4 separate regions of the Homo sapiens genome follow, and all the other regions are linked to region 1. The links come from fine-mapping of genetic effects on plasma protein levels. A gene starts in region 1. Each other region holds a variant in brackets. All regions are shown on one strand. Distances are between the middles of the regions.

Region 1 (4,669 bases):
TTTATTTCTGTAACCAGTTACAGGCAGAAGGCCTGGAAATTATCACCAGACCAACTCAAAATTACAAAGTTTTTCAGAGTTTATATACCTTATAAGCTATATGTCTACATGTAAGTGTACATTCCTCTGAAGATATAAATGTTTCTTTATCAGCATTTGGAACATGCCAGGCAAATAGTAAACACTCAATATCATCTACCATCAGCCTCAGCCTGGGGCCTCACACCCATCTTCTTTTATCTAAAATTCTGAATTAGCTATGAATATTCTCATTTTACGAATGAGGAAAGAAATGTGATCTGAGCTAATGCCTTGTGTCAACAGGTATATTACACTAAGATGGAGAATGATATACTGAATCTGTGTTTGCCTTTAACGTGTGTTTAACTTCGAGAAAAAAGCCAAGGCTGGGCGGTCGCAGTCACGCTGCATCCGGCGACAGGGGGCGGTGTGTCCTGCGAAAAGTCAAAACGCCGGAAGCTGCCCTTAGTGTTTTTCAGCCTCTTGGTCTTAGGGAAAGTGAGGCCGTGTTTTACATCCAACATATTATTATTCTGATAATATGTGACTTGGCGCCACGCGCACTCTGCACTTAAACACGCACTTAAGGGATAAACACATACGACTGAAAAAGAGTTTCGCCCTTGATAGGCAGTGTATGGGGTGCGCAGCTGCAATCTGCAAACCCTTGCAGGGCGCGGGGTTTCGTACACCCGCTCAAGGACGCAAAGAACCTCCATTCTCTGCCATACAAAGCACTCCTGGCCCAGAGAGCAGGAAAGAGCATCAGCTAGGCCCAGCTAGGCGGCGCCCTCGGCCGGACTCTGAAGGTCAGGGCCGCTGGGCGTCCACGCCGCCTGGGTCCCAGTCCCCGTCCCATCCCCCGGCGGCCTAGGCAGCGTTTCCAGCCCCGAGAACTTTGTTCTTTTTGTCCCGCCCCCTGCGCCCAACCGCCTGCGCCGCCTTCCGGCCCGAGTTCTGGAGACTCAACATGAAGCTACCGGCCAGGGTTTTCTTTACTCTGGGGTCCCGGCTGCCCTGTGGCCTCGCTCCTCGGAGGGTAAGGCGGCCGGGGGCGCGGGGAGCGAGGACAGGGCGTCTCGACGCGCAAAGAGAGAGGACAGGGCGTCACGGGGGCTCGGGGAGCGAGGACAAGGCATCCTGGGGCGCAAAGAGAGAGGACAGGGCGTCCCGGGGGTTCGGGGAGCGAGGACAGGGCATCCCGAGGCGCAGAGAGAGAGAGGACAGGGCGTCCCGGGGCCTCGGGGAGCGAGGACAGGGTGTCCCGGGGCTCAAAGAGAGAGGACAGGGCGTTCTGGAGCGCTAAGAGAGCACAGAGCAACCCGGGGAGCGAGAGAGAGGACAGGACGTCTCGGGGCGCAAGAGAAAGGGCAGGAAGTCTTGGGGCACAAAGAGAGGACCCGGCGTCCCTGGGGCTCAGGGAGCTAGGACAGGGCGTTTTGGGGCGCAGAGAGAGAGGACCACCAGGTCCCGGAGCGAAGGGCAACGCCGGGAGTGAGCACCGGGGCCCGGGTCGTATTCCACTGTCAGATGAAGCCCTGATGTGTGTAGGGGAATAGGGAAGAGACGTGATTTTCGAAGTTTTCACAGTTCTGCAAGTTTCCAACTTGTGTGTAAATAGGTAGAAAGAGGTAGGGAAGGATACGGCGCCCGTCCACCCCTTAAGGAGTGAGAGGGGATCAGGCCGAGCGAGCACTGACCTTTGACGTCCTTTGTTGTGAGGAAAGTCCATCTATGTGTTAGTTATGGAATTAAACACTAATACAAACAAATTATCATAAAAATGAAACAAAAACAAAACCCCAGCTGTTTATAGACTCCCCTTCCCAGATGTATAGCTGGGAGAGGTCCGTCTCACACTGGCTTCCCCCTCTCTCTGGCCCACACTCCTGTCACCATCTCCATTGCACCCATAGTGGAAATAGCTAGGAAGTGAAAACAGCTAGGAAGAAGAAAGAGAAACAAAAACAAAAAGAAGCAATAATATCCAAGACAAGCCCTCCCCACATCTAAATTACAAAATTGTTATAAGTAAACTAAAAAGCACATTTTCTTTAGCCAGGTAGAAAAATTAATATGTCAACTGTGAAAAAACTTCTTTTGATTTGATAGAATAGACAGCCATGGTGTTGTTTTTCAAAAAATATGGGCAGCAGTAGTTCCAAATAGGAATACAAAGAATTAGTATGGTGGTTCCCTCAAGTAAGGTATCTTTCTTTTAAAAAGTGAGATTTGTTCAGGGTTAGGGTTTTGCTGATTTTTTTTCTCTCCCTGTGAAAACTGGGTTATAGATCATTATAAAGGAAGCCCATATTTTCTGATACTTTTCAGAGACATTTCTCATTTGAAATCTACAACAGCTCTGTGATGTCTTCAGAGATTTCATTTTTTAACACACATCATTAGGATTGTAGCAATAAGGTCATACAGACCTTATCCAAGCTCTTCTGACACCATTAGACAATACAGTTTGAGAAGGAGAAAATGAACTCATTTAAAAATTAATTGTAATCTGACAATTTTGAAATTCCTTTGCTGAAGAAAAATATGGAAGTTTTGAGGTTCAGGGTTGGGAGGCAAGAGAGGTACCTGTTAGTGTGGTTTGTCCCCTTCCTAGCACATGTAGCCTCAAGTTTGAATTCCTGGGAGAAGAAAAGTCTTTACATCTGTGATGTGGGAGGTTGTTCCAGGGAACATCATGTTTTTGTGGGCAAATACAAGTTGTTATAATTAAAACCCCTAATTTGAATATTTTTGTTACCAAGAACCAAGGCAAATGTTTAATTTGTTATAAAACCTGTTTGTGAAGTGCTGTGTTAAATTGTGCTGCTGGCTAATAGGCCTCATTTCAATTTAATAAATATTTATTGAGGACTGGCTTTATGTCTGGCCCTGTGCTATGCCCTGGGACTCAAAATTTAAAAAATACGAGCCCTGCTCTCAACTGTTCTCAAGTTGCTCTCAGTTCTATTGAGGAAAACATTCAGTCATTCAGTTGTTTATGAGGAAACACTAATTAATTAAGTACCTATTAAGTATTGGGCATTCTTTGGCAATTTGTGGTTGAAAGACATTCCTGCCTTCAATGTACTATAGTCTCATATATGTATTTTAAGCCACAAATAATAACCAATGAGTAGGCCTTGAAATCAATTTAGTGGAGCAAAACAGCACTTTGGGAGGCTGAGGCGGGTGGATCATTAGATCAAGAGATCAAGACTATCCTGGCCAACATGGTGAAACCCTGTCTCTAGTAAAAATACAAAAATTACTGGGTGTGGTTTCACACGCCTGTAGTCCCAGCTACTTGGGAGGCTGAGGCAGGAGAATCGCTTTAACCTGGGAGGCAGAGGTTGCAGTGAGCTGAGGTCGCGCCACTGTAGTCCAACCTGGCGATAGAGTGAGTGAGACTCCATCTCAAAAACAAAAAAATGGAATAGAATAGGATATATCTAAATTCATCTCATGTAGTAAGGTTGTTCATTTTGTGAAACTTTAAAAAAAAAATTTACCATTCTTCCTTTTTTGATTCATTCTTTGATTACTATCATGCACACTGCCATGTTTCTTTTCCTTTTGTTTTTATCAAGAGTAATAACTATCCAACCTGATCAACATGGTGAAACCCTGTCTCTACTGAAAATATAAAAATTAGCCGGGCGTGGTGGCGCGTGCCTGTAATCCCAGCTACTCAGGAGGCTGAGGCAGGAGCTACTCAGGAGGCTGAGGCAGGAGAATCACTTGAACCTAGGAGGCAGAGGTTGCAGTGAGCCAAGATCACGCCATTGCACTCCAGCCTGGGCAACAAAGTGAGATTCTATCTCAAAAAGAAAAAAAAAAAAAAGAATAGTAACTATCAAGAGTAAAATCACTATTTTTAGAAAAATGATTCCTGGCCAATATTCAGCAATACAGTTAACAAAGTAAGATATGACCTCAAACTGGCCACCTAGAATTAACTTGGGTTAGCATTTGGTGTATATCATTCCAGGCATCTGTTCTGGTAAAAGGATGGATAGGCATAATTTTACTTGGATGTCACATTTTCCCTTAGTCAACATTGTTTCATTGTTTTCTCACGATGAATATTGTCTTGGAGCAGTATAAAACCAACTAGATGTGTTTTCTTTATTTTTTTTAAATCTGGAAGCCTAAGTATTTCTTTATTCAGTGTAAAATTCTGGAATATAAGCTCTATGCAGGCAAAGATTTTCAACTGTTTTGTCCACTGTTTATACCTAGAACAGTGCTTAGCATAGAGTAAACATGTAACAAATATCTGTTACATGAATGAACGTGTGTACTGTGTTGCTATGAACATGTGTATGTTGCTATATAAATCACATTTCTTGCTATGGTTCACAGTCAGAAAAATCTGAAAAATGATAGTCTAGTGAGTCACCAGCAGACATCAATAGACTGTGAAGATGCAGATGTGTATTATAATGCATATATGACCCAAACTGTACATACCTAGAGGAGGCAAGGAAAGCTTCATGGAGGAGGTGGCCCCAGGAGCCTGCTGTTAAATCAGGAGTTGGAATTTGTGTGGTCCCAATGGCAATATAGACCTAAGGAATAGCATGTATCAAGAAGTGAAAGAGTGGCTTATTTATAAAAATTCAAGTGGTTTGTTTGGTATTGTGGA
Region 2 (8,164 bases), 37 kb after region 1:
TCTCTGCCTACTTTCCTCCTTGGAGGAACTCTTAGAAACCTTAGTTTCCTCAGGCTCCCCAAACCGATCTCTATCTTCTTAACTCAGTGTGAATGCCATTTTCTGCTTAGATTCCTCCTCCTCATCCTTCCATCTATATAGTATCTTTAGGCAAAAAGCTAGGGTATCTCAGGGCTTAGTCATTTTCCTTCTATCAGAGTCATAGTCCTTCCCTGCCTGCTGTGCAGTATCTGTATATAATTGTAGCATATGTCTTACTCAGTTTTCTTGATGTTTACAGCAGAAGGGTAAGTTCATTATGGCTGGAGGCAGAAGTCCCTGCTAGTTTAAGTTTAATTCTGATTTATTCTTATTCAAGTAGTACTTAGTTAATGGGAATCCTGACCAGCTGATTATACAAGGTGCAATAGGGGCATGCCTCTGAGATTTGGGCTTTCGTATTGACTCGCCAGGCATACATTCCAAGTAAGTGCAGATTGGGCCATCCTAAATCATAAGATTAGTAGCAAGACATATCAATTTTCTTAGGTTACTCTCTCATTAATTTAGAGTGAGTGAAGTTTTAAAAAATACTTTAGTTTTTCTTATACCCTCTTTAATCAGATCCCATTTTTATAAATAATGTTTTCCTTATGTGTAGTGATACATCTATATTGCTAATCAACTGTATCCTTTTAAAATTTCAGGAGCAGCATTTCTTTCTATTACTACTATCTATGCTGAGACTGGTTCAGGTTTTGTAGTACCAAGTGCTTCTGCCAAAGCAGGTGTGGAAGCCATGAGCAAGTAAGTACTTCCTTGTCAATCCTGTTGCTGAACATAACTAATACAGTTGGTGGCTCAGGGAACTGTATTCCTGCTTTCTGGTGTCCATCCAGAGAAAAGTAAACAAAGACTTGGATTCACCATGAGACATACATTTTATCTCCCAGATAAGTCCTATTTGTCTATAGCAGCGCTGTCCTGTGGAACTTTCTGCAGTGATGTAAATGTTCTGTAAATATGCACTATCCAGTATCCACATGTAGATATTGAACCCTTGGAATATCCCACTGTGACTGAGAAACTAAATTTTAAAAATTAGTAGCTGTATATGGCTAGTGGCTACATATTAGACACCACAGGACTATAGCTTTTTTGCTCTCCCATAGATCTTTATCAGTGCCATCCCTAACCCCTCTCATAAGCACACGTTTATTCTTTTATTGTAGATACTGTATAAGATTAATGGGACTAACACAGACTATGAGCACTTCCCAAGTCCAGTGGCCTTTTCTCAGCAGAGTATAACTGCTTTTTTTTTTTTTTTTGAGACAGGACTTCAGTCTGTTGCCCAAGCTGGATTGCAGTGGTGCAATCACAGCTTATTGCAGCCTTAATCTCCCAGACTCAAGCGATCCTCCCACCTTAGCCTCCCAAGTAGCTGGGACTACAAGCAGGTGCCACAGCGCCTGGCTAATTTTTAAAATTTTTTTGTAGAGATGAGGTCTTGCTATGTTGCCCAGGCTGGTCTGGAACTCCTGACCTCAAGAAATCCTCCTGCCTCAGCCTCCCAAAGTGCTGGGATTACAGGCATGAGCCACTACACCCAGCCATGATTGCTTTTTGAATTTGTCCTCCACTGGCCTTTTCCATTGTCTTTATTATAATGGGGCTTCTCATCATTTCATTGCTTGTCTGGCTTGCTATAATCATGGTATATTTCTTTACTACCAGTCTCTTCCCCCTGTATTTTGTATTCACATTTTCACCAGAATTATCTTTCTAAGAACATATATGTCTGCTCACGACACTCCCCAGCTAAAAATCTTAGATCATTTCCTGTCACTCTTTGGAATAAAAGCCAGAACTCACTATGGCATTCTAAACAGACTTGTCTCTGGCCATTGTTAATTAATTTATTTATTCAATAAATATTTATTGTGTACCTTATATATGCTTCGTCCTAGGGATATGATAGTGATGGAAATAGAACAGTCCTCGTTGTTAGCTGAGCTTAAATTTTTTTACTATTCCATTTATTATTTCCATGCTTTAATTTCCATTGAACTGTTCCATGTTTCCCTAAACTTACCATACAGCTTTCATATGTCTATGGCTGAGTTATATTGTTGTTGGAATTTTGCTGTGATGTTTTGCTTACTTCCTTTGAGATGTTTTCTCTGTAATCATTTCCTCCTCTCTGTGCCTTAAAACTTTGTTTAATCCAATCTAGTGAGAGGACAAACACTAATAAATAGATTCTAAAATGAAGGTAATATACCAATGTAGCAGAGAGAGAGAGCAGGGCATCGCGGGCCTTTTTTTTTTTTTTTTTTTTTGAGACGGAGTTTTGCTCTTGTTGCCCAGGCTGGAGTGCAATGGTGCCATCTTGGCTCACCGCAACCTGTGCCTCCTGGGTTCAAGCGATTCTCCTGCCTCAGCCTTCCAAGGAGCTGAGATTACAGGCATATGCCACCACACCTGGCTAATTTTGTACTTTTAGTAGAGATGGGATTTCCTCCATTAACGTAACATTAAACAATCTGACTTCCCCACTTGGACCAGAAGAGTCTGGTCCGTAGCTGGTGCTTCATGCTTGTTGAGCTGAATTATGGTACTCTTCTTTTAGTAGTCCCAGAGCATTTTTAATATTTAAGTCAGTAAATACACATTAGTTTGAGATAGAAAGAAATATTTATTCACAAGCTGAATCTTAGTCTGAAAAGAGATAATTACCATTTTTTAAGGTCAGGTAGTGTTGGAAATAAAGGATGAGAACTTGACTATTTTGGCAGCATTTGTTCAATGTCAATATTTGTTTTGTGAGGACTCTTCAGTCTTGTTAGAGCTTTTTATCTCATGTCCTTTAAGAACTGATTTGGTGCTGCTTTTATTGTGTTCCTGCATATAATAGATGCTCATTAAACATGTGCCTTCCTTTACAGCTTGAGTTCCCATCAACCTTCTTCTCATACTTTATAGTACACAGTCTTACTAAATAAGGCATTATAGGTTCCCAAATTCTACATGTTGTTTGGGCCCTTGTCCTTTACTCATACTGACCCATATGCCTTGGCTGTCTTCCTTCTCCATCTGTATTAGTCCGTTCTCACTCTGCTATGAAGAAATACCTGAGACTGGGTAATTTATAAAGAAAAGAGGTTTAATTGACTCACAGTTTCCACATG[G/A]CTAGGGAGGCCTCAGGAAACTTAGAATCATGGTGGAAGGCACCTCTTCACAGGGCAGCAGGAAAGAGAATGTGTTCCAAGTGAAGGGGTAAGCCCCTTATAAAACTATCAGATCTTGTGAGAACTCACTCACTATCATGAGAACAGCATGGGGAAAACTGTCTTCAGGATTCAGTTATGTCTACCTGGTCCCACCCTTGACATGTGGGGATTATTACAATTCAGAGTGAGATTTGGGTGGGGACACAGAGCCAAACCATGTCACCATCCTACCTTCTTAATCTCTCAGCTCCTCCTTTCCCCTGCCTCTTGCAGCAAACTCCTAATCCTTCTTCACCCATCAGCTCAGAATGTTACCTTTTCAGAGAAGCCTTCCTTGTCACTCCCACTTAGGTTCTTCTTCTTTTAAGCAGGTATAGCTTACATCACACAATTCCCAGCCTAGTAACTGATTCATTATATAACCAGGCTCACCTCTCTTGAGAGGGAGGGACTCTCATTTGAGAGCAGGGACTGACTTTATTTGAGGCTAAGCAATATTTATAGTATTGACACATGGTAAGTATATAATAAACATTGGTTGAATGAGCAATAATAATGGCTAACATATTGCATATATTGTTCTTAGCATCTTAACATGCAGAGATAACTGTATGAGGTGGATTCATTATCAGATTACAGTAGTTCTTCAGTATATCAGCTAGCTTAATGACAGTTGAAAGATCATGCTAGCAATTGAACAAATGTATCTGGCACACCTCTGAGCACAGAGAGGATGGCTTTTCCTCTAGGCAGATTTTCTTAACAGGTTGCTCAGTTTTTCATAGGATAATATAGACTCTGCTCAGTACAGTAATTCTATTAAGACATGAAGCAATTTAGAGTAGATACACTATAAATAAATGCCCAGGGTAGCTATGGCAATGAACTTTGTCAAAAACATCACTCAGAGAAGCAATTTTTATGTATGTTCTGTCTGAAAGAGATACAGCCCACCCATTTCTCTAAAATACATTCATGGATTAAGTCAGATTAACAGGCTATCTTGAGATTACGTGTACCCTATTCTGTAGAACTGGTTTTACTGAATTGGCCTTTGAAATGATGCTATAAGACTATTAACGGATGTCTGATAGTTTCATAGAACTTAGCGCATTTTTAAAATTATACTTTAAGTTCTGGGATACATGTGCAGAATGTGCAGGTTTGTTACATAGGTATACATGTGCCATGGTGGTTTGCAGCACCCACCAACCCGTCATTTACATTAGGAATTTTTCCTAATGCTATCCCTCCCCTAGCTCTCCACCCCTTGACAGACCCAGTGTGTGATGTTCCCCTTCCTGTGTCCATGTGTTCTCATTGTTCAGCTCCCACTTATGAGTAAGAACATGCAGTATTTGATTTTCTGTTCCTGTGTTAGTTTGCTGAGAATGACAGTTTCCAGCTTCATCCACATCCCTGCAAAGTACATGAACTCATCCTTTATTATGGCTGCACAGTATTCCATGGTGTATATGTGCCACATTTTCTTTATCCAGTCTATCATTGATGGGCATTTGGGTTGGTTCTAAGTCTTTGCTATTAAGAACAGTGCTGCAATAAACATATGTGTGCATGTGTCTTTATAGTAGAATTATTTATAATCCTTTGAGTATATACCCAGTAATGGGATGGCTGGGTCAAATGGTATTTCTAGTTCTAGATCCTTGAGGAATCACCACACTCTCTCCCACAATGGCTGAACTAATTTACAGTCCCACCAACAGTGTAAAAGTGTTCCTATTTCTCCACATCCTCTCCAGCATCTGTTGTTTCCTGACTTTTTAATGATTGCCATTCTAACTGGCATGAGATGGTATCTCGTGGTTTTGATTTGCATTTCTCTAATGATCAGTGATGATGAGCTTTTTTTTTCATAGTTTGCTGGCTGCGTAAATGTCTTCTTTTGAGAAGCGTCTGTTCATATCCTTCCCCCACTTTTTGATGGGGTTGTTTGTGTTTAAGTTTAATTTGTTTAAGTTCTTTAAGTTCTTTGTAGATTCTGGATATTAGCCATTTATCAGATGGATAGATTGCAAAGCTTTTCTCCCATTCTGTAGGTTGCCTGTGCACTCTGATGATAGTTTCTTTTGCTGTGCACAAGTTCTTTAGTTTAATTAGATCCCATTTGTCAAGTTTGAACTTAGCCCATTTTATCTATTGCAAGGATACAGTGTCTTAAGGAGATTGTTATACTGTACAATTTTCCTTTTGTAAGTCTAGAAAGACTTAAAGCATTTTTCGTATTAGAGACAATTGTGCTTTTCCTGAGCAATTAGCTTGCTTTTTCTTTATGGGTACTGTGGATTGTGTAACTGATTAGGCTTACCTTTTTTGTATAGAGTCATGGGAAGAATAGATACAAATTTGTGATGTGACTATTGCAGTTATATGGAACATCACACACTTCAGTACATTTAGATATTAGCCTCATTCTTGGCTCCGTTATATTTCGTTATCCTGGCTTTTCTCTCTCTTTATCTTGCTTTTTTTCTTTCCTTCTTCCTTTCAAATTATCCTGTCTTCCTCATTTGCATTATATGAATTCTTTTAAGCTACCTCGTCATTATTTGAAATTACATTAAGTATATATACACACAAATATACATATGAATGTAAATTCCTAAAATGAATTTAGATTTTAAAAGAGCTACCTGTAAAGTAAGCTTTTAAAACAAGTTCCTTTGAAGTTCTTTGTTTGCTATTAGTGTTATATTTTTCTTCAGGACATTAAGCAAGATTTTGTTAGATTCCTATTTCCTTTCAAGTTTGGTTCAACAATTATATTAAAGCCTAGTTAGACATGGATGTGGTTTATATTTTCAATCGATGTACTCTTTTACTCAAATAAAGCACTTGTGATATTACAGACATTGTAATCCAATGTACAGGGCTATGAGTAAAGTTATAATGAACTTTGTAACTACAAGACTGAACTCCAGAAAATGTGAGGGAAGGGCATGAAGCACTCACGTTTTTATGTGAATAATGAATACCTACTCTAAAAATGTGTATTGACATTGGACAAAAGTATATATTCTAAACTACAAATGGTAGGTGGTGTAGCATAGTGGTTAAGGACACTAAAATGTAAAGGTTAGGTTGTACAGTAGAGTGACTAAGGGTACAGACTGAAGCTAGACCTCTTGAGATTGACAAATTGGCCATATGACATAGAGAAAATGATTTAACCTCTCTGTGCCTTAGTTACATTATCTGTAATATAGGGAACAATAATAGTACCTACCTGTTGGGGTTGTAATCTCTGGCATGTAGTAAGCATCTAGTGAGTCTCAGTTATTACTGTCTTTAACATATGGTATAATATTTCAGAATGTATGTTGTTGATTTTAATTTTTAGGTCTCTTGCAGCTGAATGGGGTAAATATGGAATGCGATTCAATGTGATTCAACCAGGGCCTATAAAAACCAAAGTAAGTTGTATTTTGCTTGTTATCACATTGTGAATGATTAAATAATGAAACACTGATAGGTATATTCTGGTTGTTGTGTAAAGGACTTTCCAGAGATGCCTAGGTTTAGAGCCCTGGTTCTAGGGAAGAGGCCTTTGCCTTTATTCATTATCGAATATAAGAAATAAGGAGGCGGGCAGGAATATAGCAGCTATGCAATTTCTTCATAATGTCAATTTCAGTGTCTTAATCGTTTGGGATCTTTTATACCATCAATGTTGGCACTTTGTCTGATTTGTTTCAGTGGTCTGTTATTGTCCTGTATTTGTTAACTTTCATGACATTTTAAAGGCTCCTACATTGTCTGACATCCTTTTTTAAAAAAAATCAAGGAAATGTAACTATATTTTTAGTTTGAGAGATGCTTTGGTAACTTATTATATAGGCTTTGTCTTGTTATAGGTAGGTAGCATTTTCCTTGACTCATGCTTGTGCCCTTTCACTCTCAGTCAATTATGCATGTCATCTAACGCCCACATGTCTCTGATTATAAGTCCTTCTGACAGCATAGATTTCACCTATAAGTAATAATCCTTGTGGATACTCATTGCAACTTGTAATTATCTCTAATGTTGTTACAGATGTTGCTCAGAATATCCACACCTTCTCTGCTCTCTCATTATCCCAAAATAACTTCACTCACACTTCTCTTGGTTTTCACCTAAAGCAAGTATTTATAATGCCAACCAGATGTAATGTTGAAAGACCAGGAAAAATTTGGTAACTTGTTTCAGTTGTGTAAACATATTGGAAAATAATACTAAAGGACTTTTGGGTTATAGGTAGCTCTGGGTATTAAAAATAACTTGGAAATGGCCATATTAGTTTATTTAGCAGTTTAAAGGATGGGAAATAGAAACAAAAACTTCCTGAGTGATTGAAACTTGTTGACTATCTTATTTATCTGACAATTCAATACTAAACAGTCTAATAAAATTAGTGGAAAGAAACTTAAAAACATACATTAAAACACATGATTCAGGGTGGCCCTGTCCTAAGCATATCTGAAAATAGGCTTATAGACACAAACGCTTCTCTCCAAGACCCCAATATCTAGGGAAAAATCACCTGCATTTTATTTATTTAACCTATATTTATTGACTGTTCACTGTATCTACGGGTACTGAGAAAGATACAGAAGTATCTCTGAGAAAGTGCTTGCCACTAAGGAGTTTACAGTCTAGCCACTGAGATAGGAGTTGTACCCAAATAATAACTACTTACTGTTAAAGAGATTAAAAGAAAACTGAAGTGTAGAAACTCCCTAGCATGCACTTTTTAGAACCAGGACTGGGACCAGTTGCAACCCCTTGTCTCTGGGCTTTATAACCTCCTGGGAAGAACTGGAGGTCTGTCATGGAGTCCCCTGAGTGTTTGTTCTGTCTTATGGCTGCATTATTGAGGAAAACTGCCACCTAAACTTCAAGGCACTAGTACAGAAAAATCCAGTTGTTTTTATTAATCAGTGCACATCCATAA
Region 3 (8,164 bases), 510 kb after region 1:
TCAGATATATGCTTTTTCTTAGAATACAATTTTGCAATATTTCGAAATCAAGCCATATGGGAATAATCTAACCATTCAGCAAACAAGTAGGTATTGAGTGCTTATCCACACAAGGATACAGTCATGAAGGATGCAATTCTTATATTCAATTTGCTAACTATCTTAGGATAATTATTATGTGAACACAGAAGAAGGGTGCCTAACGTAATCTGGAAATACCACAGAAGACTTCCTGAAAGAAGTGTCTTGGCCTGAGTCTCGAAGAATGAGCAGTTATTAATTAAATGAGGTTAGTAGGGAAGAATGCTCAAAGGAAAAACAACCTGAAGATAAGGACGCTATGTTTCAGCGCTGAAGGGCCTGGTCATTAGGGAAATGGAGACCTTCTGTTCCTGCTCCTTGCCGTTTCCACCCACTTCACTTCCTCTCATTTTCCTCCCTTTGTTTGAAAAATAGTTAAGACAAACATTTCACCTGTCCAATAAGCCAGTAAAGAGAGAAATGGTAAAAATAAAAGAGAGGAAAGGAATACATTATGGACAGATGTCTACTGAGAGGTGAGAGAGGCTCAGAAGCAGGGCAGGCACCAGAAGTTTAATTAGCCATGGATAGGAAGATGGTAGCCGTTCAGAAAGCAGATCAGAAAAGACTTACATGAAAGTATATTTAATAGAGTGGTTTAGGTCAGGAAATATAAATTGCTACCTGATGCTATTTTTCTATTGTTTCCTGAGAATGTAGAACTTACTGAGTAAACTGGGTACTTAAGGGCTTACAGAAAGGTATGCAAGATAAAGTTCCTATCTTTGTGTAATCTAACAGAAGAGAGAAGACACATATTCCAATAATGATTATAAAAGAGAATGAGTGATAAGTATGATGAGATAATGAAAAATAAAGTGTTAGGGAGTTCAGAGATGGGGATATTCTTTCAGGCAAGGATGTTATTGCTTATTGATTTATAACTGCCAGATAATAAAGGTAATTGCACATTGGTAAAAATTGGAGTCTAATCTAAAAATCAGATGAGTGGATAAATAAGTCAAACCAAATTAATCACCAAAGTGAAAATTAAATATTCACCACCAGTATGTTCTCCAATACACAGGGGCTATTGCTTTTCTATTAGTTATAATAATGGGCTAAATTGTCTACTCTAAATAATCTCTTTCTCTTTCATCTTCTCTCCCTTCATCACTCCCTTCTTCCTCCTCTCCTCTTTTTTCTTCTCTGCCCTTTTCTTATCCTCACATATTTGAGAATCTATTAAAGTTCTCTGAGATTCACAGAACTGATCTTACTCTAGTGACAAGCACCAGAGATCTCACTAGAGGAATTCTAACAGGTAAGTTTGCAAGAACTAAAGAAGAAAAAGAAGAAGGAGTAACAAATAGCATTGAATATAGGAGAGAGAAAGGTATTAAGATTAAATTAAGAAGGAGGAAGAGACAGAATAAACCAAACTCTGGCTCTCCCAGGAGACTAGGGAGACTGAGATATAAGATTATTATGATACACGAGAACCAGGAAGTAATCTTTCTATTAATAAAAAAGAAAACACATTACTACATTCTATTTGTTTTTTCTTCTTCTTCAGATGATGGAGACATTGAAGGAGGCTCAGAAAATACTTAGTCAACAAGCATTTATTATCCCTCTACCCCAGAGGATATTTGGCAATGTCTGGGGACATTTTTGATCTTCACAACTGGGGAAGGAATGCTACTGGCATCTAGTGGGTAGGGCCAGAGATGCAGCTAAGCATCCAACAATGCACACAGCATAGCCCCCACAGCAAAGAAATAGCCCCAAATGTCAATAGTGCCAAAGTTGAGAAACTCTGCCCAGAACGCTCTTCCTCCAGTCACCCATTTCCTTTAAGTCTCTACTCAAATATCATCTTAATGAGGCTTAGCCCGACTGCCTTCTGTGTAAAATTGTTACCCGTCTCGGCACTTCCTCAGCTCCTTCTCTGATTTTGTTTTATTGTAGTACTTCTCACTGTTGGCTCTACTGAACCATTTACTTATTATTTTATTATCAGCATCTCTCCACTGAAATATAAATTCTCTGAGGGTGGAAAATTATTATTGGATTGGCTGTTTCTGTTTTGTTCATGGTTGCAGCTTTCCCAGTTCTCAGTAAATATTTGATATCCGGGGGAAGAAAAGAATGGGCTCTGGGGTTAAGAACACACTTTGGGGGTGAGGCATGGGGTTATCTAAAGTATCAGTGGAAATACAGTCTAGAGGTTGGGAGAAGAGTTTTTACAGAGCAAATACTACTTTTGGACAAGGGAGCCTGATTAGAAGTTAGGGTAGGCAGAACCCCAAAAGACTCTACAAAGGATTTAGCTTCCTGAGTGTGAGGCAAGGTTATATCTCAAAGTATGAACCTGGTTGTATGTGATGTTTCTGACCCCTTTCTCTCTATCTTTCTCTCTATCTTTCTCTCTCACTCATAACCAGAGGGCATTTTTCCCTCTCTCCAGCTTTTTACCGCATTACTAACAAAGATTCAAAAAATGGCTGCACCAAATTCAAGACAAAGATTCTTTTCTTGGAGACATCTGTACAGGGTCTTTTAAAAAACAAAAAGCTTTCAAGCTATTAGATAATATCAGCCTAAAGGGAAGAAGTGAAGTAAAATTAAAATGAATGAAAGGAGGAGGAATTTGGAGGGAGGAAGATGAGAAGATGCAGTCACTCTAGGGCAGAATCTCAGAAGATAAAGAAGTCTCGAACACCCTGAACAGGCCTGATCTTGTCTGAATGTGGAAGCTAAGCAGGGTCATGCCTGGTTAGTACTTTGATGGGAGACCACCTGGGAATACCGGGTGCTATAGGCTTGGCCAGGCATGGTGGCTCGTGCCTGTAATCCCAGCACTGTGGGAGGCCCAGGCAGGCAGATCACTTGAGGCCAGGAGCTCAAGATCAGCCTGGCCAACATGGTGAAACCCTGTCTCTACTATTAAAAATACAAAAATTAGCCTGGCATGGTGGTTCACACTGGTAGTTCCAACTAACTACTTGGGAGGCTGAGGTATGAAGATCACTTGAGCCCAGGAAGCAGAGGTTAGAGTGAGCTGAGATGGTGCCACTGAACTATGGCCTGGATGACAAAGCGAGACTCTGTCTCAAAAAAACCACACCCACACCCACACCCACACCCTAACAGAGTCACTGCTTGGAAATGACTACTGATCAACAGTCGCAGTCCCTGAACCCAGTCACAAGCCTCCTG[A/G]GCAGCAGGTAGGAAGGGAGCTTGCGTGATGGCAAACAGCCAAGACAGCCCTAAGGTTCCCTGCAGTTTGGCTGAACTTTAGACAGGCTTCTCCCTAACTCTAGACCCTGACCTCTCTTTTCTTAGAGCATTTGCTTTAGAAAACTTATATTTATAAATGCTTTATCTACCCCTTTGAGATATAAATCTTTTAAAAAGCCTCTTGCCACCAGTAAATGCAAGAATGTCTTTCTCGAGGACCTAGAAACCAACTCTTTGAAATGGAGTCATCAAAGAAGATGGCACCTCTATTTTCCAGTCTCTTTGTGAGGGTAGGAGCCTAACTTTAGTGGACACCTTGTTCTTCTTGTCATGAAGATACAAAGTTAGCCACATAGTGAGAAAGACAAATATTAATTAAATTCATAGTAATATATAATTGCAATAAGAAAAGTACCCCAATGGAATAGAACACAGATCTCTGAATGCACATATCAAAGGAAACTAGCCTAGATATTTGGGTGTGGAAGAACGTTTGGGCTGAGAAGTGAAAGTTGTGAAATGCTAGGAGTCAACAAGGTGAAGGGAGTGTAAAGGGACGAGGTGCTAGTGAATGTTCTAGGAAGAGGGATGAACACTAGCAAAGGCCCTGTAACCAAAGAAGGCATGGTAATAAGAGCTCAAAGAAGACTGTGATGGACCCAGGAAAAAGGGGAAAAGCTAGCACTGAATAAAACTAGAGAAGAAGACATAATAGAGAGCTTTTTCTTAATCCTAAGGACAATAGATGAACTCTGAAAGGCTTTAAGCTTGAGCAGGGGGAGGGGATATAATATTTTCGTTAAATTGAGACCAGATATAATTTTAGGAATCAGGAGGTTCTTGAAATAGTTCAGGGGATCACTGATGATGGTTTAGCTAGAGATAAGTAAAGTTGATGAATCCAAGATGCTGAGAAAGCAATATGACAGGTCTTGGTGAAGGATTGTTACAGAGATTGAGAGAAAGGAATGTCTTGTAGCTGAAGAGGTGTTTTGATTGTGCACAGGATACAGAGGGGCCACCCACTGAGCAGTCTGAGAAGACACTCTTTGCAAAAAAGCCTTAATATTGAATTTTGCTTGGGTTTATAATTGACTGTTCCCATTTTTATTAATATTATTATTTAATATAGACCAAAATCTCAATACTCTTATTAGAGAAAAATTCTCAAAAAAAGTTCCAAAAATCAGTATGCAGAAAATTGATACTGAACCCCTTCTTTACACCATATACAAAAATCAACTCAAGATGGATTAAACACTTAAATGTAAAACCCAAAGCTATAAAAAACCTAGAAGAAAATCTTGGCAATACCATTTAGGACATAGGCACAGGCAAAGATTTCATAACAAAAATGCCAAAAGCAATTGCAACGAAAGCAAAAATTGACAAATGAGATCTAATTAAACTAAAGAGCTTCTGTGCAGTAAAAGAAACTATCATCAGAGTGAACAGACAACCCACAGAAAGGGAGAAAATTTTTGCAATCTATTCATCTGACAAAAGTCTAATATCCATAACCCACAAGGAACTTAATCAAACTTTACTTCTCTTTAGCTAAACAAAGGATATGAACAGACACTTCTCAAAAGAAGACTTACATGAGGCCAACAGACATATAAAAAAAAGCTCAACATCACTGATCATTAGAGAAATGCAAATCAAAAGCACAAGATACCATCTCACACCAGTCAGAATGGCTATTATTATAAAGTGAAAAAACAGCAGATACTGACAAGGTTGTGGAGAAAACGGAAAGCTTTTACACTGCTGGTGGGAGTGTAAATTAGTTCAATTATTGTGGAAGACAGTGTGGTGATTCCTCAAAGACCTAGAGGCAGATATACCATTTGACACAGTAATCCCATTACTGGGTATGTACCCAAAGGAAGATAAGTCTTTCTTTTATGAAGATACAGGCACATGTATGTCCACTGCAGCACTATTCACAACAGCAAATACATGGAATCAACCCAAATGCCCATCAGTGATAGACTGGGTAAAGAAAATGTGGTACATATACACCATGGAATGCTATGCACCCATAAAAAAGAATGAGATTATGTCCTTTGTGGGGACATAGATGAAGCTGGAAGACATTATCCTCAGCATACTAACACAGGAACAGAAAACCAAATACTGCATGCTCTCACAAGTGGGAGCTGAATTATGAGAACACAAGAACACATGGTGGGGAACAACGCACACTGGGGCCTGTCAGAGTGTGGGGTGGGAGGAGGGAGAGCATCAGAAAGAATAGCTAATGGATGTTGGGCTTAATACCTAGGTGATAAGATGATCTGTGCAGCAAACCACAATGGCACACATTTACTTATGTAACAAACCTGCACATCCTGCACATGTACTCCTGAACTTAAAAGTTAGAAATAAAAAAAAGAAAAGCAATCAGACTCTAATAGATAAATGGACAAAGAATATGAAAAAAGAATTCTTTAAAAAGCAACTATAGTTAATAAATATTTGAATACATGCTCAACCTAATTAGTAATAAAATAAATGCATATTAATGTAATAAAATAACTTTTATAATAATAATTTTTTTTAGATGAAGTCTCTGTGTCACCCAGTGCAGTGGCATGATCATAGTTCACTGCACCCTCAAACTCCTAGTCAAGTCATCTCACCTCAGCCTCCCAGAGTAGCTGGGCTTACTGGTGCGCACCACAATGCCTTGCTAATGTTTTTTCCCAAATGGGGTCTCACTATGTTGACTAGGCTTAGTCTTAAACTGACTAGGCTGGGTCTTAAACTCCCAGCCTCAAGCAATCCTCCTGCATCCACTTACTTGTAAGTAAAACAAGATGAAAACCTTGCTGGTGAAGATAAATGAAACAGGACCTCTGAAAAAATGCCAATAAGCATATAAATTAATACAGTATTGTAGGGAAAAGTTAGCAATAAGTCTCAGGAGGTTTTTTTAAAATATTGATGGTCCCATGCCTAATAATTCTATGTGTGGGAAAACATCTAATGTAACTGACCAAAACTTTAGATACAGACTTATGTGCAAAGATGTTCATCACAGACACATGTAATTGCATAATTGCAAAGAAAGAAAAGAAAAAGGAAATGAAATAGTTAAATAGTTCTAATTCCCCAAATTATAAGTACATAAGTAAATCATGGTATATGTATATGTTGGCATATTATGTGATTGTATTAAGTAATAATTGTGAAGATTTCTTAACAACATAAAAAATTATGATATATGAGCTGGATTAACCAAAGAATACAAAGTTGTAAGTACCATACGTCAATTCCATTGAAATGCATAGATTAAAAACTGAAAGACTGTATGTGAAGTATTAATATTGGTTAATTCTGGGGGCTTTACAGTTAACTTATTTTCCATATAATTTTCTGTATTTCCCAAAGATGCAATAATGAATACATATTACATTTTAACTAAGCAAATACATCATGTAAGTCTGGTGTGATATACAGTTCAGATGAGCTCTCAGAAAATTTCCAGTCTGTGATCACAGTAGTATCACTTTAGCAATCATTAAGAACAATTAATCTATACTCATTGGAGAATAAATTAAAATACAAAAGAATGTAGTAGATATAAAGAAGTCATTGCTTTTCATATGATAAAATACAGTTTATAATTAGCATCTTTGTTATTTTTCCTTTGATTTTGTTTCATGTGTAAATTGGGTTATAAATTGGATCTTGAGTTATAAATTAGATCTTATCAGGTTTTTCTAGCCCACATGACACGTAGTATAAAGTAGATATGGGGGCAATAGAGCAATCTCCTTTCTTTACATCAGTGAGAAAATAGAAATCTGTTGTCTTTTGTTTAGACATATGACTGATTTTATGTGAAGACTGGGATCAAATATGACCTTCAGTTTCATTCAGACACAATTATGATAATAGTGTAGAATACTGCTACAAAATAATTTGAATATATTGCTACCTCTATGTGATTATTTGTTATGCTTATGTTGTCATCTTCATGTTTACATTACTCTCCAGAGCGGGTCTCAAACTTTATCAGGTGTCAGAATCACCAGGCTAGAGGGCCTGTCAAATCAGATTATTATAGTGCACCCTCACAGTGTCTGATTTGGTAAGTCTGGGGCCACTTATGAATTCCCACTTCTAACAAGGTCTCAGGTGATTCTGATGCTGCTGGTCTGAAAGCCACTGCTCCACACTGATCATTTCAACTGGTATTGTAAGCTTACTTAAAGCAGAAGATCATCTGTTTTCATCAATAATATTTACTCTAGTCACTTATTTTTTGGAGGTAGGGGGATGGGAGTACTTCTCATTCCCTTCAATGGAAATTTTTGATAACAGATACTAATGGCATAAGCACGCCTCCACCTCCAAACAGAAATAAGGCCACAGATCAGTTATATGAAATACAACACTGGTGCCTTTAATTCCTGTTACCATGACTGCAGTATGCCCAAGGAATAGTGGCACATCTCACATAAACATTGGGATTATGTGCTCCTTCCTCAATGGCACACATTAATGAATGAACATGAAGTTTTTTTGTAATAAAACTCTCAGAAGGCGATATCAGGGGATTATCTGTAAAATGTGTAAAAGTTGTCATCAAAGAAAAGATTAAGTATTATATTCTGAGAACTTTCAGTCTATACTCCAAGCCTCTCTAGCAGAGTCAGAGCTCTTTACTCTCAGCCTGATTTTAAATGAGTTTTATAAAAAGTATAAAGTCAGCCGGGTGCAGTGGCTCATGCCTGTAATCGCAGCACTTTGGGAAGCTGACACAGGTGGATCATCTGAGGCCAGGAGTTCGAGATCAGCCTGGCCAACATGGTGAAACCCCATCTCTACTAAAAATACAAAAAAATAAATAAAATAAAATAGCTGGGCATGGTGGCGCATGCCTGTGATC
Region 4 (8,164 bases), 1.1 Mb after region 1:
TGGCTGGCACCTTGATCTTGGACTTTACAGCATCCAAAACTGTGAGAAATAAATTTGTTTGTAAATAACACGGTCACAAATATTTTGTTATAGCAGCACAAATGAACTAAGACACTATGTAAGGTAGCATATTCACAGGTTCTGGGGTTTAGAATGTGGACATCTTTGGTAGGCCTTTATTCTACTTACCACAGAAGGATATATCGACACAATAACACAAAGGCAAGCCCCTTCCATGGTTTTTCTATGACTCTTAAATTTAGTCTAGTCATGAACTATTCAGTGCATATATTTTCTCAGAGAAAAATCTCAACTCTTCTTAATTTTTTGCTTAGTTAATATGAGTTGGTTAATATAAAGCTTTAAAATTTTAGAAGAAAGTAAAATATAGGCCAGGCATGAGGGCTCATGCCTGTAATCCCAGTACTTTGGGAGGCCAAGGTGGGAGGACCACTTGAGGCCAGAGGTTTGAGACCAGCCCAGACAACATAGAAGACAAAAAACTTAAAAGATTAAGCCAAGCGCAATGGCTCACGCCAGTAATCCCAGCACCTTGGAAGGCCGGGGTGGGCGGCACACATGTGTCCATGTGTTCTTATTGTTCAATTCCCACCTATGAGTGAGAACATGCGTACACCTACTAGGTCTTAAGCCTTGATTGTTCAGTCCTATCATGTGCACCAGGGAGAGGAAGAGAGCTAGTGTAAAAGCTGGACTCAGAGAAGAGCTGACCTTTCATATAGAAATGGGAACCTATTGGATGACAAAAGTAAAATGTAAGGGACATAGGGGATGGGGGGTAGAAGATAAGAAAGAAGAGAAATAAGAAAGTGAGGGAGAACAATATAATTAGATATTCATACCAGGGAAACAAAGGCATGACTAGAAAGGCAGAGGAAGGGTGAGCCAGAAATGAAATGTCGTATGTATGTGCATACAATTTATAATGCAAAAGATGCTTTGTATATAGATTCTCACTTCAGAGTAAACCTGTGTAATAAATAAGTGGGACAGATAATACTATTGAGCCATATATATCCAACCCTCAATTTCTTATCTCATGAAACATCTCCACAGGTTTATACCCAATTATACCACAATTGAGACTGGTTTTGCTAGAGGTATCCTAGGAAATAATAATTGGTTTGAAAGGGAAAGGTGGGGTATCAAAAGTAAGCAGAATACGTAGAATTTATTTAAGTATAGGGCAGGCTGTTACAGGGGTTGGTTAGCACTGTCCAAATGGTCAGGAAAAACTGTAGTGTGTTCCAGATCAAATCCGTACCCAAGGGCACCTAATCTAGCTGTGGAGGTACAGTGGCAAGGTTATCTAGGAAGAACTGAAATTCAAATCAGAAGAGCACTGAACCAGCTGATGAAGAATTAGAAGCCAATAATTAGAGGCCCAGGTCTAACCTGTGGAGAAAGGGTTAGCTTGGGCTCCACAGGTTGTTGGGTATTAGTGAAGTAGGTTTAAATTCAAGGAAGAGCATAAGAGTTAGCAGCAGAAATCAGAGCTGGGGGTGGGTGTGGCAGACACCCAGGCACATGTAGACTGGGAAAATATGGGGGAAAGCTGTGGCTTGGAGGACACAAGTTGATAAGCTCAGAATTCCTAAGCAGAGGCCAGATGATATCCTGACCATGGCCCTGGTGGATACGTTTTTTGTTTTGTTTTGTTTTGTTTTTTTAAAAAATGTATTTTGTCTTACTTATTTTTTTACACAGGTTTACAGGTTAGCCCTGGTCAAAAATGGGAGAGATGCAAAGCTGAGCCAATTGGGGAAGCCAAGGATTTTCATACTTTATTTATATCTCAAGTGAAAAAGTTTCTGACAATAAATTGGGTTATCTTTGATATTAACACTAGCTAACACATTTTAATGAGGGCTTACTACATTTTGTGAATCATCCCAATTTATCCTCAAAGCAATCCTTGAAACAGACACTACTAGTATATACATTTTACTGAGATAGACACTGAAACACTCATTATGTTACTAGCCTTAAGTATTGAAATTGGAAACCCAATCCAAAACATCTGGTCCCAAATCCTTTCTTTTAAAACATGTCTGCCTCTCATATAGAGATTGCTTATGTTGAGAAGTATGAAGCCATACACAGATGGTGGTAGCTATGATAATCCTTTAATAATTAGTTTTTAGTCAGAGTCTGCAAAAATGTATCTTGTTCAATTCTATTAGGATGCTCTCCTCTTGAATTTGAAAATTAGGCTGTTCACTTTTATCATTTCCTCAATTCTACACTATTCCTCTTCCTCCTTATCTTTCCACCAAGGCTATTTGCAGCTGGTCATTTATCTTAGCTGCCTTCCATGTCTTTGTTCTATTCTCCCAAAGGTTTTTACCTATTATTTGAATTATTTATTCCAATCCCTTCATATGAGCCATTAACATAATGAGATTCTTATCTTCACTGAAGACACAACTTTAAAAAAACCTCATAATTAAATTGGAGTAGATATAATACAATTAATATTTTTTTCCTTTCTAGGGTAAATTATACATATGTTGTATTTTGGTAGTCTGCATTATAATCTCTATTTTTATACAATAAAGAATTTTACTTTTGGTTTTAAAATTTGAAAAGGAAAATAGTCACTGTTCTAATAATTTCATGCACTACTATAATAGTTGTCAAGAGTAAACATAAAAATTTTAGTTACTGTTGCCTTACAATAACCTTTTAACTTGATAGTAATGTTTCACATTTTCCTTTGCTATGGTCTCTGATCAAATACTTGTAAATTTTCTGATGCAGTTTTTCTAGTCAAAACTATCTCTTTTTTTTTGTCAAAACTATCTTTTAAAGATTTTTTAGGAATATAGAATTTCTGTCAGAAATCGATGTTTGGGGAATCACTTTGATTAGCCCACTAATGATGGGCTGATAACCTTGCCACTGTACCTCCACAGCTAGATTAGGTGCCCTTGGGTACGGATTTGATCTAGAACACAGTACAGTTTTTCCTGACCATTTGGACAGTGCTAACTAACCCCTGTAACAGCCTGCCCTATACTTTCTGGGCACTGATATTAGAAGGTGGGGAAACAGAAGTCAGAAAATTATTCATCATGAGTAAAGGAAAAATACATTTTTTTTCCTCTGACAAGGAGATAAGACTGAGAAAGAAAGAAACAAGAATTGAAGAGAGAGCAACCAAAAAGAAAGAAAAAAAGCAGCTAGAAAGACCAGTAATTTGTGTGAAGCAGCAGTAACAAGATAGAAAATAGAATAGAAAAACATCCCTTTCATTATCCACAAAGCAAAAACTACACAAAAATTAACATAATAAAACAGTGTACTAGCTAAGACTCTCCTAACAAAATATTCAAACTATAAAAGAACATTTAAAAGGGCCAGAACAACTGCATAGATGAGGAAGTAAGTTTAAGGATGATAAGAAGGTTGGAAGAAGTTGGAGTTCTGATGAGGGTATGACCATAAAGAGGCAGTACAAGGGAGTTTCTTCAAGGTGATGGAACATTTTTGTGCCCTGATTTTGGGGTGGTTACACAAATCTATACATGCAGTAAAATTGTACAGAACACACAAAAAGAATGCTTGTAAAACTGGTGAAATCCAAATAGTCTATGGCTAATAGTATTGCATCAGGGGCAGTTTCCTCTGTGTGCGTGTGTGTGCGCATGCGCGCATGCACACGTGTTTTAATTTTCAATTCAGGGGGTACATGTGCAGGTTTGTTAGATGAGTATATTGTGTAATGCTGAGGTTTGGGTTTCTAGTGAACCCATCACTCAAATAGTGAACATAGTACTCAATAGACAGTCTCTTATCCCTTGCTCCCTTCTTCTCCCCTTTTTGGAGTCCCCAAAAAGGGTCAATTGTTTCCATCTTTATATCCAAGCATACCTATTGTTAAGCTCACATTTGTAAGTGAGAACATGGGTATTTAATTTTCTGTTTCTATATTAATTCACTCAGGATAATGGCTTTCAGCTGCATCCATGTTGTTGCAAAGGACATAATTTTATTTTATTTTTTTTTACGGCAGCATAGCTGGTTGAAGAGTATAAAGGAACTCTATTTTTTTGGCAACTTCTAAGTGAGCCTAAAATAAATCAAAACATAAAGTTTTCCAAAAAAGGCACATGCTAAATGACTCATGTATCAACGAAGAAATCAAAAGAGAAATTAGTACTTTGAATTGGAAAAAAAAACACAACAAACCAAAATTTGTGGAATGCTCTAAAGCAATCCTCAAATAAAAAATTATCCCATGAAACTGTCTGTATTAGAAAGAAAAAAAATTTCAAGTCAACAGCCTCAGCTTCCACTTTAAAAAACTAGGCACAAAGGAGCAAATAAAACCTAAATTTAGCAAAGGAAAGGAAATAATAAATCTGAGAGAACTGATGTGTTCAGAGGGAGCATGGCTTTGACATCTTAACTTCAAACTTTAGCCTTCAGAATTATAAAATAATACATTTCTATTGTTTTAAGCCACCCATATTTTGATACTTTGTTACTGCAGGCCAAGGAAACTAACACAGCTTGTAAGGATCACGCAGCTGCTGTTTGTATTATGATATTTATATTAAGTGGATTTATTAACAGTGGTCACATTTGAGGACTGGAGTTAGAGAAAGGAATTCTTAAATTCACATACATATTTTATTTAAAAGTAATGTTATTTTAAGAATATTTAAGTAAATTATATATGGTAAAATAGCTTCA[T/A]GTTGTATTTTAAGGATAACTTAAATACTAAAAAATTAAAGTAACTTCTATACAAGGATAAAAGAGTGTACCTGTCTGTAGAATAAGTAAATAAGAGCTGTACTAACTAGTCAAATGAGTATAACTAAGATTTTAACACTGTTAAAAATGACATATCTTTTCCCAATTTCTATTCGATAATTTATAACTTTTGCTGAAAAAGTAAATCAAATATTTTAATTTGTAGCTTGTGATTAGATAATACATTTAATTTTTCTTTAAAAAAACTAAGGAAGTAAAGGTGGAAATCTTTGATGTGTTTTTGTTTTCCCTTTCCCAGTGCTTTCCATTCTTAATTCTACTCACCATGTTACTCAAAACAGGCACCACTAATTACCCAATTTCAGTATAATCAAAATGCTAGAAGGAAATAAAGTACCTTAATGACATGTCTTAAGCCTTCCAAACCTTGATAGCGTAAACCAAAAAGCATCCGAGACAGGACTCAATCAATTTAGAATTTTATTTTGCCAAGCTTAAGGATATGCCCGGAAGAAAGAAACACAAATCCACAGGAACAATCTATGGTTCATACCTTTTTAGAAAGATGATTTTGAGGGCTTCAGTATTTAAAGGGGGAAAGCAGGCTGGAGGGGAAAGAGAGAGGATATGGTCCCATTGCTGACTCCATGTGTTGCAAGAGAAAAGGAGCAGGCTGGGGAATAGTCAATTAGGTAATCCTCTTACGCTCAATAAATTGGCACTTTACATAAGGTGAACATAGAGTACCTACCTATGGAGATATCTGACCTTTTATCTGTAGCTATTAGCTTAGGAACAAAAGCGAGCAGTTTCTTGCATGACTCAGCGTTCAGCTTACTTTCTTCCTTTTGGCTTTGTGAATTGGGGTACCGAGATTTTGTTTTTTTTTCCACAATGGGAGAATCATAATGACAAATTTATAAATATAATATATAATTTTTCTTACCCTTTGTGAAATTCTTCATTTAAATTCCTAAAATTTTATGAGATTAAAATACATTTAGTAACAATCAACTTTTTTAATACAAAGATTCTAGAAAAGCTTAAGGTACATTATTAGCTATGGTCATTCATTCTGTCTTGAAGTTTAATAGAAATGCTTTTTTCAGCACCGAACTGTGATCTTCAGGACCATCCTTCCCTCCTTTCCTCTCTCCCTCTCTTCCTTCCTTTTCTCTTGTTCATTCTTTCATTCTTCCTCTTTTTTTGAGGGGTTGGAGTAGAAGGGTAGGCATATACAATTGTGAGGTCTGGAATCTACTTCATATAAGGACAAGGAGCAACTCTGGATAAAAAGAGAGTAATATACATGCTTTATTTGCCTGCAACTTGTGGGAAAGAGCATCAGAAGGCAGGAGAGGCACTTGGAAGGGGAAGTGAGAGAACATTGAAGATAAATCCCACTTCTTCTGTGGTTTTTTACTAGGGTGGATACTCATGTACTGACAAGCAAGTATCATCTTTAGCAGACTCTACCTGAGATAATGATCTGCTTTTATTTGTCACTGATTTTACTTTCCACAGGGTATCAGGATGAGGAACCTTCAAATCATGCATCACATTGAATCTCTTGGTGGCAAAGGTAGCATGGAGGTGGCACATAGCATCTGTGGTACAGGTAGGAGATTGCTAACCCTTGTTCAAGATGACATTGATAGGCAAATAGCCAGGAATATGCTTTTCTCTTGGAAGTGCCTACTCCACTTACTCTGAAAGGCTGACTCCTCACGATTCAGATCTCTGCCTACATGTTACCTTCTCAGGTAGATCATCTCTGAACAGATTCCCACCCCCATCCCATATACCTTATTATTCTGTTACAGTACTCTATTGGTTTCCTACATAGTACTTAATATAATTTGTGCTTGTCCATTTTTTTGTTTACTTACATATTGACTAATACATTTATTTACTTGTTTGTTACAAGTAAATAATGTCTTTATAAGAGGAATATGCCTTTTTAGCTCTCCAACATTTGCCCAGTGTTTATCGCAGTACCTGGAGCATAGCAGTTTCTCAATAAATATCAGTGGAAAGGAGTAATTTAAAATTTAAATTTAAAAAATCCAAACATGAGGCTGTAATTCTTATTGTGATTCTCAAAGATCCTGATTACTTGGTCGGGATTTTGATGGAGAAGCAGGAAGAGAGACAACATGTATTTCTGCCTCCAGATTAAGTAAATATTGTAGAAGAAGGAAAATAATTATTTCATTTATTAATCCTAGCGTGCATATTTGATATCTCTTAATATTAAAATAGTTCCTGCTATCTCTTGTATTTGTAATACTCCTCATGTTTATCTATTGCAAGTATATATTAGCACTTATGGTATTTCAAGAAATAGGTAGTACCGGAGATCCAATGAGATGCAAGACAACCTGCCTCCTTCCTAAAACTGAAAAGATGTTAGTAAACACTGACTTGGAGTTTTTTCATAATGGCATCTTAAATTGTATTTTTTTATACATGCTTTTTTTGGCATACTTAGATAAAAAGACTATTCTTCACTTCCATAAAGAATTATGCTTTCTCTTATTTTTTTTGAAATCTGTGTCTTTTTGGCTTGTGTTTTCTTACCTTTGGTAGAAACATGGATATCAAAACAGTTTACCTTTAATTTCACTATAAAAAATAACAACTGTTCAAATGCATGTAAGCAGCAACTGACATTTGGCCTCAGTGATGAGGCAACAACAGAGAACAGCAGAACTTGGGAACCTGCAGAAGACATGCACCAAATAAAGGGCACACTACCCCTGCTACTCTATAATTTCAATGTTTGTCAGAGCTCACATTTGCAAGAGAACTAGAAGTCTAGATTTCTTTTAACATGAAATGATCTGATTTTTAAAATGTTTGGGGGCTAAATTAAAAAACCAACAAAGCATATGTGGCAACACTGTAGTAACAGGTCAACAAATATTATGTTAGACCAGATTTAGCCCTCAAGATGGCTGTTTCCTCCATCCTACGGGGTACTTTTCATTTTCAGCAGAGAGAAACTTTGACCACTAACACTTGGGAATATTTAAGGGGAATAATGACTGTCTTGCCAGTTCCTTTCATAGACCATAACAGGTACTTAATAAATAGTAGTTGAGTGGACACACTGAATGCATAAGTCATTCACACGTTGTTACTGTGGTTCAAGAATTAGAACAATTTAGTGTATATGAAGAGAGAAAATTGGACAATAAAAATTATTTACATATTTTGTAACCATAACAGTTAACAACTTCAAGCACTTTCTCTGTGCTAGGTACCATGCAAACACTTTATAAGGATCACTCCACCAATTCCTTATAATGATTCTATGTAGTAAGACTATAGCTGTCCTTTAACTTATCCAGAGCTGGTAAGCTGCAGAGTTAATAAGAAAGATATAAAATAATTCTGACACCAAGGCCCATGTCTTAATTGT

Which allele goes with the higher level. Positions count from the first base shown, and alleles are read on the strand shown. Strength reflects both the effect of a copy and how common the allele is.
For the plasma level of the protein whose gene starts at base 976 in region 1, G is the high allele of the variant in region 2 and A is the other (moderate association).
With allele G in place of A in region 3, the plasma level of the protein whose gene starts at base 976 in region 1 is lower (weak association).
For the plasma level of the protein whose gene starts at base 976 in region 1, allele A in region 4 goes with a lower level than allele T (weak association).

The links. PIP is the chance, under the fine-mapping model, that this variant and not a neighbour inherited with it causes the effect. The UK Biobank Pharma Proteomics Project read protein levels with antibody pairs (Olink). The fine-mapping took linkage between variants from a reference panel, not from the people measured, so its PIPs are less certain.
Region 2: its variant is fine-mapped to the plasma level of the DECR1 protein (UK Biobank, PIP 0.97).
Region 3: its variant is fine-mapped to the plasma level of the DECR1 protein (UK Biobank, PIP 0.95).
Region 4: its variant is fine-mapped to the plasma level of the DECR1 protein (UK Biobank, PIP 0.98).

The regions. Positions count from the first base shown.
Region 1 is chr8:90,000,502-90,005,170 of GRCh38, forward strand. DECR1 (2,4-dienoyl-CoA reductase 1) reads left to right here and starts at 976. Exons shown (of 10, transcript NM_001359.2): 1 at 976-1,060. The coding sequence starts at 992. RefSeq lists enhancers at 320-614, 1,463-1,602 and a silencer at 893-992.
Region 2 is chr8:90,036,155-90,044,318 of GRCh38, forward strand. It overlaps DECR1 (2,4-dienoyl-CoA reductase 1), which reads left to right. Exons shown (of 10, transcript NM_001359.2): 6 at 687-786; 7 at 6,574-6,646. Among named protein-coding and RNA genes, the nearest start is that of DECR1, 39 kb to the left of the region's middle. The variant G/A (reference allele first, on the strand shown) is at 3,171.
Region 3 is chr8:90,508,393-90,516,556 of GRCh38, forward strand. All of the region lies in intron 3 of LOC124901975 (a long non-coding RNA gene), which reads right to left. It also overlaps the pseudogene RNA5SP273. Among named protein-coding and RNA genes, the nearest start is that of LINC01030, 94 kb to the right of the region's middle. The variant A/G (reference allele first, on the strand shown) is at 3,244.
Region 4 is chr8:91,054,703-91,062,866 of GRCh38, forward strand. It overlaps OTUD6B-AS1 (OTUD6B antisense RNA 1), which reads right to left. Exons shown (of 3, transcript NR_110438.1): 3 at 5,204-8,164. Among named protein-coding and RNA genes, the nearest start is that of OTUD6B-AS1, 11 kb to the right of the region's middle. The variant T/A (reference allele first, on the strand shown) is at 4,720.